Linked DNA regions of Homo sapiens: regions 2 and 3 are each linked to region 1. Evidence: fine-mapped expression QTL. A gene starts in region 1. Each other region holds a variant in brackets. All regions are shown on one strand. Distances are from middle to middle.

What was found. PIP is the estimated chance that this variant, and not a neighbour inherited with it, causes the effect. A credible set is the group of variants that fine-mapping cannot tell apart.
Region 2: its variant is the best candidate, but not a certain one, in a credible set for the expression of ADGRA3 in aorta (GTEx, PIP 0.70).
Region 3: its variant is the best candidate, but not a certain one, in a credible set for the expression of ADGRA3 in whole blood (INTERVAL, PIP 0.90).

The regions. Positions count from the first base shown.
Region 1 is chr4:22,514,321-22,518,564 of GRCh38, reverse strand. ADGRA3 (adhesion G protein-coupled receptor A3) reads left to right here and starts at 2,499. Exons shown (of 19, transcript NM_145290.4): 1 at 2,499-3,037. The coding sequence starts at 2,781. MIR12115 (microRNA 12115) reads right to left here and starts at 3,253; the gene lies at 3,180-3,253.
Region 2 is chr4:22,642,505-22,646,748 of GRCh38, reverse strand. No RefSeq gene overlaps it. Among named protein-coding and RNA genes, the nearest start is that of ADGRA3, 130 kb to the right of the region's middle. The variant C/T (reference allele first, on the strand shown) is at 2,422.
Region 3 is chr4:22,478,233-22,482,476 of GRCh38, reverse strand. All of the region lies in intron 1 of ADGRA3 (adhesion G protein-coupled receptor A3), which reads left to right. Among named protein-coding and RNA genes, the nearest start is that of MIR12115, 35 kb to the left of the region's middle. The variant A/G (reference allele first, on the strand shown) is at 1,747.

The DNA.
Region 1 (4,244 bases):
CTGGTCTCAAACTCCTGACCTCGTGATCCGCCCGCCTTGGCCTCCCAAAGTGCTGGAAGTACAGGTGTGAGCCACTGCACCCGGCCTGATATTTCTTTATACTAACAATAGCTTTACACCACAGAGCAAAGAAAAGGAAAACAAAAACCAAAAAACAACAAAAAAGCAAACCCACAGTGAGTAATGCACGTAGATGAAGGCCCAGTGTGGGCATTGTGGGGAACTTGTCGTTGGCAAATCCAGCCTGCATGCATGCCATTTGATTACCTTTGGGGGGCACGCTTGCATGGGGGAATTTAGGCATGCCCTGAAAAGATATATAGCAGCAGAAAAGGGCTGGGAGGGGCTTTTTTCCCTTGGGGATGCTAGTAAACTGCATAGTGTGTCTGCATTTTGATGGTGACCCATCACATGTGACCAGGTGTGGAATTTTGCACTTGAGGTATTACTTGTCGGAACTCAAAAAGTTTTGGATTTTGGAGCATTTCAGGTTTTGGATTTTTGGATTAGGGATGCTCAATGCTCAATCTGTAGTAAGGTTTTATCTTAATCAAAAAACAGATCATTATTTTGTTAGGGAATAATAATTCTTCAGATAAATTCAAGAGAAATGTGATCCATTTCACCCACCTTAACACAGAGGCACCAGTGTGCCTGCTAAGGTTATTTATAGATCCGAAGTCACTTAATGGTGCAGATAATCTCCCACTTTTTCTTCCCATCATAGTGTCTGGGCTTATGTTGTTCAACACCAACAGGGTAGCCACTGGGCATTTAAATTCAAATGTAAATTAATTAAAATGAAATGAAAAATTTAATTCTTATTGCACACTATCTACATTCCACACACTATGTAGCCACAGTTGGCCACCATATTAGACAGCAAAGAACTAGAACAGCTATACAATCACAGAATGTATTATTAGACAGCACTGGACATGGTTGGGTTGGTCAAATGAACTGCTATTCAAATTTAATACAACACTGATAAATGATAAATGGAGACCATTTATTTACTTCCCATTGAGAAAGCTCTAGCCAGATAAACAGATTCCTGCAAATTGGTCCCTAAGATAAATTTTGTAGGGGCCAGAGGCAGTAGTGTCCTTAGACCCAAGCAAGAAAAACCGTGTTCTAGGCCCTCCATTTTAGAGGACACCAACCTGACTCTTCTTATGGGGTGAAAAATCTCCAGGCCAGCACCCAAAGCCTGGGTACCCACTATGTCCCCAAGACCCAGGACCCTGGAATTCCCTGACTGGTATTACCAAAGCCACTTCTTGGCCCTGAGCTAGCTTCTTCTGAGAACTGTCCTCCCAATGAAGGACCCAACAACTGGTATAGGCACACCTGAGATCCAGACGCAGACAGAGGGTGGCTGTTAGAAAGTGTGAACAGAACTTGGTTTTGTGGGCTGCGGTGTTCACACACAGGTACAAAAAATCCCCTCTTGTCCTTGAAGATAGCTGGGCACAGGAAGCAAAGACGGTGAAGGTGTACAGGCCAAAGGTTTGGATCTGACTCTTTCCCACCTGCCATGTTTCAGGGAGAAACTCCAAGGTGTCTGAGAATCCTGCTTACAAACCTTCCAGGTTGTTATGAAGGTAATTTCTCAAGGCAGGAGCACAGAATATATTTTATTAGCATGATATAGTCCTTGTAAAATTTTAAACATAGGGTAGGTAAGCCCTGGGCTTGCAAATGTTAGGGCGAGGCTGGAAGTCAGAGTAATCAATTCTGTTGGGGTTTCTTGGAGGGTTTGCTCATTATTGCTCGAACTGGTGAACATCTCAAGTATCTTTGCCTGTCGAATTTCTTTCAAAAGGCTGCCTTTCTAGTGAGGTCCAGATGCATCCTTTAGAGACCATCGCTGTTGTTGCTGAAGGCCAGAAACAGCTTCAGATTGTTCACTGTATTGAAGAGGAACCTGTTTACTGGCTCCAGTGTATTTGGGACAAATAAGACTACCATAATGAGGTGAGAAGGCGATTCCTTCCGAAACACTTGGTTTTGGGTACTTTTCCCATAGGGTTGGTCAGGGAAATTCCCTACTCTCGTCCCTACTCCATCCTCCGGGCCAGGCTCCTTGGGCCACATGGGCAGTCTCCAGGAGCGCACAAGACTGCTTTGTCCTGTGCCCGCGGTGCGAGCGCGGTGGCGGCGAAGGGAAACGAGCAGGAGAGTGGCCACCGCGGGTGGAGTTTGGACTCGAACTTTCCTCCGTTCGGACTCGAACTTTCCTCCGTTCTCTCTACGAGTTACTGCCTTCCCGCGGGCTCCCCACAACTCCTGCCCGGAGGCCGAGGCCCGGGCGCGCACCGGGTCGGAGTCGGGCTCGGCAGGTCCCGGGAGCGCGCGCCTCCTCCCCGAGGTCCCGGGCAGCTGCAGACACGGGGAGAGCAGGAGAGCCGGGAAAGAGGAGGGGAAGGGGCGGGGGCGGCCGCCGGCGGCGGGCGGGGAGGAGCCGCCGCGCGCGGGTCCTGGCCAGGGGAGGAGGCAGTGGCGGCGGCGGCGGCGGCAGAGGAGGAGGAGGAGGCGGTGCTCGCGCCGGGCGGTAGAGCGGCGCTGGGACCCATGCGGCCGTGACCCCCGGCTCCCTAGAGGCCCAGCGCAGCCGCAGCGGACAAAGGAGCATGTCCGCGCCGGGGAAGGCCCGTCCTCCGGCCGCCATAAGGCTCCGGTCGCCGCTGGGCCCGCGCCGCGCTCCTGCCCGCCCGGGCTCCGGGGCGGCCCGCTAGGCCAGTGCGCCGCCGCTCGCCCCGCAGGCCCCGGCCCGCAGCATGGAGCCACCCGGACGCCGGCGGGGCCGCGCGCAGCCGCCGCTGTTGCTGCCGCTCTCGCTGTTAGCGCTGCTCGCGCTGCTGGGAGGCGGCGGCGGCGGCGGCGCCGCGGCGCTGCCCGCCGGCTGCAAGCACGATGGGCGGCCCCGAGGGGCTGGCAGGGCGGCGGGCGCCGCCGAGGGCAAGGTGGTGTGCAGCAGCCTGGAACTCGCGCAGGTCCTGCCCCCAGATACTCTGCCCAACCGCACGGTCACCCTGTGAGTATCTCCCGCGACGCTGGGTCCTCTCCCGCTCGGCTCTTTCTTATCTCTCCGCTCAACTTTGGAGCAGGGTCCAGCCGGCACCCACGCGCCTTTGTGTGGAGCTGTAGGCAGGGGGCGGTGCTAGGAAAGACCTCGTGTGCTTGGCATGGGTGCAGTTCAGGGAAAGGCAAGGGAATCTGCGTCCGAGCTGCCTCCCAGCTCCACTAGTTTGCAAAGTAAAGTTTTCGGGTTCTCAGGCGCTCCCCGCGCTGTCCCCGGCGCAGCGCTTTTGGGCTGCGCGGTGCCACGTGAGGATGCAAGTAAACACGCAGTCAACAGAGTTAAAGCTCATTCATCCTGGGCTTGGGTTTCCAGAAAACACAATGCTTGATTGCAAGCGCCAGTCCTTCTGCTTCTTTGCAAATTAAGTTACACTTACGTGGTAGAGTTTGCAAAACACAAGGACTGTGTGCGAGCCCAAACCCCAAGACGCTTCCTTTGCCTTTTGCTATCTTAGTTTTATTACAGTTAAAGAGCACCTTTTAAGATAGAGTTGTTATTAAGGGCTGGAAACATTTCAGATCAATCTGTTTATGTACCTTGCAGTCCCGTTTTCGTGTCTGTGAGGGCTTATATTTAAAAGCCAGGAACATTGGAACTGAAAACCGTGGGTTTATTGAGCCTTCCAACTCGAGGGATTTTTGATTTTCGGATTGAGTTTCCACCTGGAAGGAAAAATTTTGGTAACTCACTTGTGCTGGGATTCACGGTTCAGTTTTGCAAACGTAGTTTTGCCAATTCTAGCTGAACAGTTGGCCCCAGTGACTGTCGAGTTTGTTTTCAGAAGGATGAATTGGTTTGGAAAGTTTTGAGTCTAAGTGTTTCTCATGGGTATTTTGTTCAACTGAAATGTGAGTCCCTTGGCTCGGGGTTCCTCTATGTTGTTTTGGTTGGTTTCCTAAAAAAAGAATCAAGGCAGCCACTATACAAACATGAATGCAAGGACCGCAGCATGATCTATGAAAACACTTAAAGTATGGTTTTAAATGTAACCCAAATTCAGCAGGAGTATACACAGGTAGGCCAGGTATACATTTCATTACTAACACTTTTGTTTACCTTCATTTCCATTTTTTGAATTAGGAAACGTTTAACCATGAAAATTGTGTCTATGTGTCTATTTATGGAGGCATGAAGATGGATGAAAGAGTTTTTGTTTTAT
Region 2 (4,244 bases), 130 kb before region 1:
TTCCCCAAAATGCTTAGAAATAAGAGCAGCCTGTGTTCACAAAATTGGGAAAAACCATATACCATAGCCCCAGTGGAGAAACAAGTTGTCCATTAGTAATCATATTAAAGTCCTGAAAAGGCATAAAAGTCTAACTTTGTTTAACCCCACACTTCCCAAATCTATTTGAGGATGCAGCCTTTTAAAGAAAACAGCCAGAAAGACTTTTTCCTTTTTCTTTTTATCTGTTTTTCAAGTTTTCTGCAATAAACAACTATTACTAAAAAAGAAAGCAACAAATACATGGAAAATGAAACAGTTAAAATTGCCATACTAATAGGCTAGAACGCCTGTGAGCAGTCTGTAAGACCTTGATTTTCCTCATCACATTTTTTCCATACCTGAAGCACAACAAAAATCACAATCTCTGACCTATTTGTTGTTAGAGCAGCATTTTTCAAAATAGATTCTATAGACCATTAGTTCCCAGAGATATTAGTGAATGATTCACAAAAAAGAATTTCAGTGTAAAAAAAATTTGGGATGTGCAAAGTTGTGACTGGACTTCCGAGAAACTGTAATATTGTAATGCACATTGTGCATTTTCCAAAGGGATAAATGTAACATGTTTTTGCAAATTTATTTGATCCTTTTGTTAGTAATACCTTGAGTTACTTTTTTCTATCAAATGTATTTTGGAGAACACTGATTTAAAATTCTAGCTCAAGAAGTGTTTGAAGACACAGGGATAACACGGATTAAAATGCTTTTCAGCAGTTGACCTAAGACCTTGGCTGAACTCTGAGGTTTTGCCAAAGGAAAAAATTTTACATGTTTGTGAGATATATCTTGGAAACTCAGGGACTTTGATTTTAAATGTTAAGGAAAGATAGGTAAATTAGATAGATAGATAGATACATACATACATAATCATAATAATAGTGGATTTTTCATATGTATAACCAAAATATGTTTTCCTGACTAAATGAAATGTCCTGTGTGTGTGTGTGTACACACTTCCTTGCATTTGGTCAACCAATATTTATTCAGCATCAACTCTGTTCCAAAAAAAGGTGCCATACTAAACATATAAAAGTGCTTAGGTAAGTAAGTCCATGACCTCTGAAAGTTTAGTCTCACTAACAAGGAAGCCATGCAAATAAACCCAATAATACTATGACAACTGTAGGGACAGAGCTACATCTAAAGAGCCATGGGAGCCTAGAAAGGGACTCAGAGCTTACAGAGACAAGGTTCAGGAAAAGTTTCTTAGAAGAGCAAACTCCTGAGCTAAGACCTCTAACTCCTGGTTCCACCCAGTTCCCACCATTGCTTCCATTTGAAGACCTTATAAAGTATGAAACTGTATCCTACAAATTTAATCTTCTTTTTGTAGTTCTGATAACAGTTTGACAACAAACGGCAATCTTTTCAAATTTTCTTTAAAAGCCGTGTTTACACAGTGGAAATAAAAGTGTCATTAAAATAAATGTGACCTACTGTGCTTAATATAGTACAAGAAATTATCACTAATGAAGATAAAAAAAATATTGGCTCCAAGAATGAGGTGGAACTATCATTCAGATCATACATGTTGAAGAAATACCGAAAATCCTCTTTTTTTGCTGACTGCAATCTGCTACTGAATTCCTTTGAACCATTGAATCATTAATTTTTAAAAATCACATTTGCCAGCCAATTACTCAGCATTCCATGACATGATCAATGATGTTAAAGGTTTTCAGCTCATTGTATTAATCAATTAAGAACAGAATATAAACAAAAAACAACTGTCAGCTGATCTGGATCCACTGCAGATGAACCGCTGTTTAAAACAATTAATAATGAAATAATGCTTCAAAACTAAGGGCAAAGGCCTAATTGATTTTTCAAAAGTAAGAACACTCTAAATGCTCAATTAGTTAATAATTTGCCTACTAATTGATTTCTTCAAGGTGTCTGACTGGCAAAATTGAGAAAGGTTCTATAATCGCTATCCTTCTACAAAAAGCTTGTTTCTAGGCATCTAGGAAGGTTAGAAGATCAGTTCAGACTCCCATTAATATTGTAGAAAACTTTCTCCAAGGATAACAAAGCTACTATCATCAACAAAGAAACTGTCAACTAATAAAACTCTGGGGAGCACTTCAAGAAACCAACTAATTTCATGAAGAATATTAGTAAATTAGATACGAAAAATGATAAAATGATGCAAGTATCTATTAGAAATAACAGACATTTACCAAATGCAAAACAACAGGTTTGAGACTGAGAGACTTGTGATTAAAATGTTTTTAATTGCAGGTAATGAACTAAATAAAGAGAACTGAACATACGAAGATGCTAAGAATTCTTCTAATTACATTGTTATTTCCTAATTCTGTATTTTCACTTGTTAAATCAAGTTTAGCCTAAAGCTGTCTCCTTACAATATTTTAAGTT[C/T]AGCCTAAAAATTTCTCTGTACATAGTAAACTATAACCTAAATAAAGGTATAAGCCTACTATAGCCCACACTTGCACCAATCACCGAGTTTGGGCAAAGGGGGCCAACTGTTCCAACTGCATTCAAATATGGCAACGGCTGAGCTGTAACCAACCCAGCTGTTTCTGTACCTCACTTCCATTTTCTCTATCTCACTTTCTTTTTCCTGTCCCTGAATCTCCTTCCACCATATGGCTGTACTGGAGTCTCTCTGAGCCTACTCTGGTTAAGGAGGCTGCCGAATTAGCAAATTGTTCTTTGCTCAGTTAAACTCTGTTAAATTTAATTTCGCCAAGGATTTTCCTTTAACACACTGTACAGGGTAGGTTACATGACCTTTGGTAATGAACCTGATGAATGTAATGCAGATGATATAATAGAGATGATGTAGTTGGGATACTGCCCCACCCAAATCTCACGGTGAAATGTAATCCCCACAGTGTTGGAGGTGGGGCCTGATGGGAGATGATTGGGTCATGGGGGCAGATTTCTCATGAATGGTTTAGTCCCATCTTTTTGGTACTGTCCTCGGGATAGTGAGTGAGTTCTCCTGAGATCTGGTTGTTTAATAAAAGTGTGTGGCACCTCCTCCCTCTCTCTTGATCCTGCTTTCACCATGTGATGTGCCTGCTCCCCCTTCATCTCCCACCATGATTACAAGTTTCCTGAGGCCTCTCCTGAAACCAAGCAGATGAGGGAGCCATGCTTCCTGAAAAGCATGCAGAATGGTGAGCCAATTAAACCTTTTCTCTTACAAATTACCCAGTCTCACGTAATTTCTTTATAGCAATGCAAGAACAGACTACAATAAATTATAGATGCTAAAAAAAATCTGAAAGTATCTTGAGAGTAGATTACAATGCTCACAGTATACTAGTAGCTAACATTTATTGGACACTTTCTATTAGCCACTTCGCTAAGCATTTTACATAGATTAACTTATTTAATCCTCAGAAATTTCTATGGGAAGTGAAATGTCTTTCCAGCTGGTAATCAGTATGTCTAGTATTTGAATCCAGAAAATCTGGTTGCAGGATCCATGTTCCTAACTTCCTTATTATCCTTTATCAAACCATGCCCTGTTTTAGCACTTTATATAAGCTTTCTTACTTAATCTCACCACAATCCTATTGTTAGATACTCTGTATTAGATACTACATACTGACAAAAAATTCTAATTGAATAATTTGCTCAAGGGTGACTGGACCAGTATACAGTCACTTAGAAATTTACAGGACTGATATCAGAATACAGTCTTTGGGCACAGGTATGAACAGACAGGTTGAGGTCTTCCTACTAAGTATCTGGTGACCTTTGATTTTTAATTGATCCTCACTACTTCACTTCCCCCCCCTCCTTTCTCCCCCAGTATTAACATAGCCACATGACTTCACTTATTTTTCAGGGGTGCTATAAAAAGATTTTTAATAAGCACAAATCGAACATAAAAATTACTAAGTAGGAAGATATTTGCATTAGTAGAAGAGCTCAGGCTTTGGTCTCTAATTCCATAGTCACCCTCAGTGGGCAGCAGTTTCTCCAGTCAACACCAAATGATCCAAGGCCCTACAAAAACGTTGCAAGCCTTTTCTTCTCCCCTTTCCTATCTTTTTGTTTATCCCTTGGGTAAACAGAGATGCAGACAGAGTGAAGGAATCAACCGAGTTTGAAGAATCAGGAGCACCACCTTTCTTCTTGGTTTATTCCTAAATAATCTTGAGTTGAAATTGTATGATATTAATAAAAGATATGATGTTTAAGGTTTTAAGATTCTAACCCCAGGT
Region 3 (4,244 bases), 36 kb after region 1:
ACTGTGTTGCCCAGGCTGGTCTCTAACTCCTGGGCTCAAGCAGTCCTCCTGCCTCAGCCTCCCAAATTGCTGGGATTATAGGTATAAGCCACTGAACCCAGCTGTATCACAGGGTGCTGGTGAAGAATGATTGAGTATATTCACTGCACAATATGATCACTCAGATATTCACCATTATGTTCTTTTTTTGTGAGGATGCAATTATGGTCAAATTGGAAAAGATTTTTATACTTTATGTATTTTACTTTGTTGTGAGAGAAATGGTAGATACACAAATGCCTGAACAGAGTGATTTCAAATAATGAGAAGTGTTACAACAAGGTGAATAGAGTGAAGGCAAAACATTTCTTGACACACAAGAGCTAAAGCATACCACCCAGAATTATTTTCTGCAAAAATGAATGAATGAGTCAATGCATCCAATCAAAGGAAGAGACATTGATGAACCAAGTAACTAACCATGCTTATGACAAAATTGATTTAATTGCTGATGCCATGTGGGATTAAATGTAATTTTAATATGAAGAATTATCAAATGGATGGAGAATTTTGAGATTCAGTAGATACTCTCATTTTTGCTAGGAAGAATTATTTTAGAAAATGGCGTTTGATTTGCATTTATCTGAAAACAGAATAAGCTGAGACAGAGTAAAACAGAAGTTGGCAAACTTTTTCTGTAAAAGATCAATTAGTAAATATTTTAGGTTTTACAGACCAGAATGTCTGTTGCCACTACTCAACTCTGCTGTCCTAGCACATCCTCAATATTTGGTAACTCTTGGTCCTATTAAAATTATTGTAGGAGGTATCTTCTGAAAGAGGAAATCCTTTGTACACGTCTGTTTTACTCTGTAAAACTTTCACAAAAACATACAAATAAAAATAAAAAGCAGCCATCAACAATATGTAAACAAATGGGCATGGTTGTTTTCAACAAACCTTTAAGGGCATTGAAATTTGAATTTCATACAAGTTTCATGTGTCATGAGGTATTGTTCTGATTGTTTTTCATGCATTTAAAAATTTAAACACTGTTCTTAGAGGTCGTAGGCTTTAAAGAAAACCAGTGGCTGGCTGGGTTTTTTTGCTTTTGAACTAGAACTTTGAAGAATGTTGGGAGTCACCAGTTTTCATGACTGGGGTAAATGAAGGAAAGCACTGAAAATTTATTTTTGAGGAGTTAACATTCCTGATTTTTGCTTATCACAGGTGGCTCTAAAACTTTAGGATGTGTACCAATTGAAGTTAGTGACTCACCTGGCCCAAAATCTAGCCAACCTTCCTTTCTTATCTCTTTTTCTTGTACTTGATAAACAATGTTGTAGCAATAACACATATTATTATACAGGCCAAATCTAACACAGTGTCAATTTACATTAGTACAATTTGTAAAATGGCAAATCAGAAATGTCAAGGTGTGGAAATTTTTATTGTTTTGAGACTGGGTCTTGCTCTGTCACCCAGGCTGGAGTGCAGTAGCCAGATCATAGCTCACTATAAACTCAAACTCCTGGGCTCAAGCGATCCTCCTCCTTGGCCTTCCAAAGCACTGGGATTACAGGCATACTAGGGCCTCAAAGAGTGGAAATTTTAAATATGTAAATATATGCCTTGATCTTTCTGTGTGAATACCTAAAGTGCTTCCTCTCCCTGAGTCCTACAACACTGCATCTTTCTGGTATTTCATTTTGTAGATAGACAAAAGAATTCCATAAAGTCCCCTATTATTGGAACCAACGTAAGTAT[A/G]CAGCAATTAGCTTTTACAGACAGTAGTGCAATGAATAATTTTGCTGTATAAGTATATAATTATATAAGATGTAATATGTAATATATTTTGTACAAGTGCAAGTATGTCTTTAGGGTAAATTTTTAGAAGAGGAATAAATGGATGAAATAGTGTATATATGTTTATACTTTTACCCTCCATAGTTTTGTTTTGATTTTTTTTGTTTTGTTTGTTTTTAAGTGACCGGGTCTTGCTATGTATATCACCCACGCTGATATTGAACTTCTGGGCTCAAGCAATCCTCCCACCTTCACCTCCTGAGTAGCTGGGACTACGGGAGTTAAGCTACCATGCCCAGCTGATTGTACTGATTTATAGCAAAATATTGAGTGGCTGTGTCCCTCAGAATATAAAATGTGTGATCACATTTTTCCCCCACTGTGAAAAGTTATTTGTGACATCTCGTTTTAATTTGTGTTTCCCTCATGACTAAGGTTGTCGTACATCCCTTTATTTGATTGTGATCCATTGGTGTTTATTTTTCCTGAACTATCTGTTCAAGCCTTTTGCCGATTTTTCTTTCTTCTTTGTTTGGCAAAAGATTTTTAAATACTTTAAGTGCTGAGATACATGTGCAGGACGTGCAGTTTTGTTACATAGGTATACATGTGCCATGGTGGTTTGCTGCACCCATCAACCCGTCATCTACAGTAGGTATTTCTCCTAATGCTCTCCCTCCTCTAGCCCTCCACCCCGTGACAGGCCCCTGTGTGTTATGTTCCCCTCCCTGTGTCCATGTGTTTTCATTGTTCAACTCCCACTTATAAGTGAGAACGTGAGGTATTTGGTTTTCTGTTCCTGTGTTAGTTTGTTGGGAATGATGGTTTCCAGCTTCATCCATGTCCCTGCAAAGGACATGACCTCATCCTTTTTTATGGCTGCATAGTATTCCATGGTGTACATGTGCCACATTTTCTTATCCAGTCTATCATTGATGGGCATTTGGGTTGGTTCCAAGTCTTTGCTGTTGTGAATAGTGCTGCAGTAAACATACGTGTGCATGTGTCTCTATAGTAGAATGATTTATAATTCTTTGGGTATATACCCAGTAATGGGATTGCTGGGTCAAATGATATTTCTGGTTCTAGGTCCTTGAGGAATCGCCATGCTGTCTTCTACAATGGTTGAAGTAATTTACACTCCCTTCAACAGTGTAAAGGCATTCCTATTTCTCCACATCCTCTCCAGCATCTGTTGTTTCCTGACTTCTTTTTTTTTTTTTTTATTTGAGACAGAGTCTCGCTCTGTCGCCCAGGCTGGAGTGCAGTGGCGTGATCTCGGCTCACTGCAAGCTCCGCCTCCCGGGTTCACGCCATTCCCCTGCCTCAGCCTCCTGCTTAGCTGGGACTACGGGTGCCCTCCACCACACCTAGCTAATTTTTTATATTTTTAGTAGAGATGGTGTTTCACTGTGTTAGCCAGGATGGTCTTCATCTCCTGACCTCATGATCCGCCCGCCTCGGCCTCCCAAAGTGCTGGGATTACAGGCGTGAGCCACCGTGCCCAGCCCCTGACTTTTTAATGATCACCATTCTAACTGGTGTGAGATGGTGTCTCATTGTGGTTTTGATTTGCATTTCTCTAATGACCATTGATGATGAGCTTTTTTTCATGTGTTTGTGGGCCGCATCTATTGGGGAGGTTTTTTGTTTCTTAGTTTTTTTTTAGAGAATTCTTTGTATGTTTAGAAAATTAGTCCTTTGCCTTTAATAGGAATTATAAATATTTATTGTTTATCTTTTAACATTGCTTATGGATTTAAAAACAATCAAAAAGAAATTTTTAAATGTGCTACATTTTCAAATTTCCTATTTGCTCTTTTCCTTAGTTCTGGGAAATCCTTAGTTATTATGGCTTGTAAATCTGCTTTTCTTAAACTTCTGTCTCTTTCTGAGGCTCATCTCTGCCTTCATCTTCATAGAGCCTTGAACTCTGTCTTCTCTTCTTTCCTTTTAAGGACACTTGCATTGGATTTAGGGCCTACCCTAACTCAGGATGCTCTCCTCTCTAGAACCTTAACTTAATTACAACCACAAACACTTTTTTTCTAAACAAGGTCACGTTCACAGTTTCACATTCACAGGTTCCGGGAGATGCCTTTCAAACCACTTCAGCCATTCAACCTGCCACAATAACCCTATTTGATTGTTTATCTGATTTTTCCCTACAATGGTTGATGCCCCAAATTATAGCTCCAACACATTTGATCTGAATATTTAGTACTCTTGAAATATATTTTTAAATTTCTCTCAAAAGGATAATCATTTTGTGCCTTCTGATATACAAGGTGTGAGTGTTGTCAACAGTTTTCCATGATTCACTCCATTCTGGGACTTGCAATAGCAAGCAACTGAGAACTTCTAAAACTACTTAATTTTTATTTCTTCTGCTCCATAAACTTTTTGATTTTTTAAAAAAATATGTATAGTAAGTCTCACTCCTGTTTTTGTATTCCAGC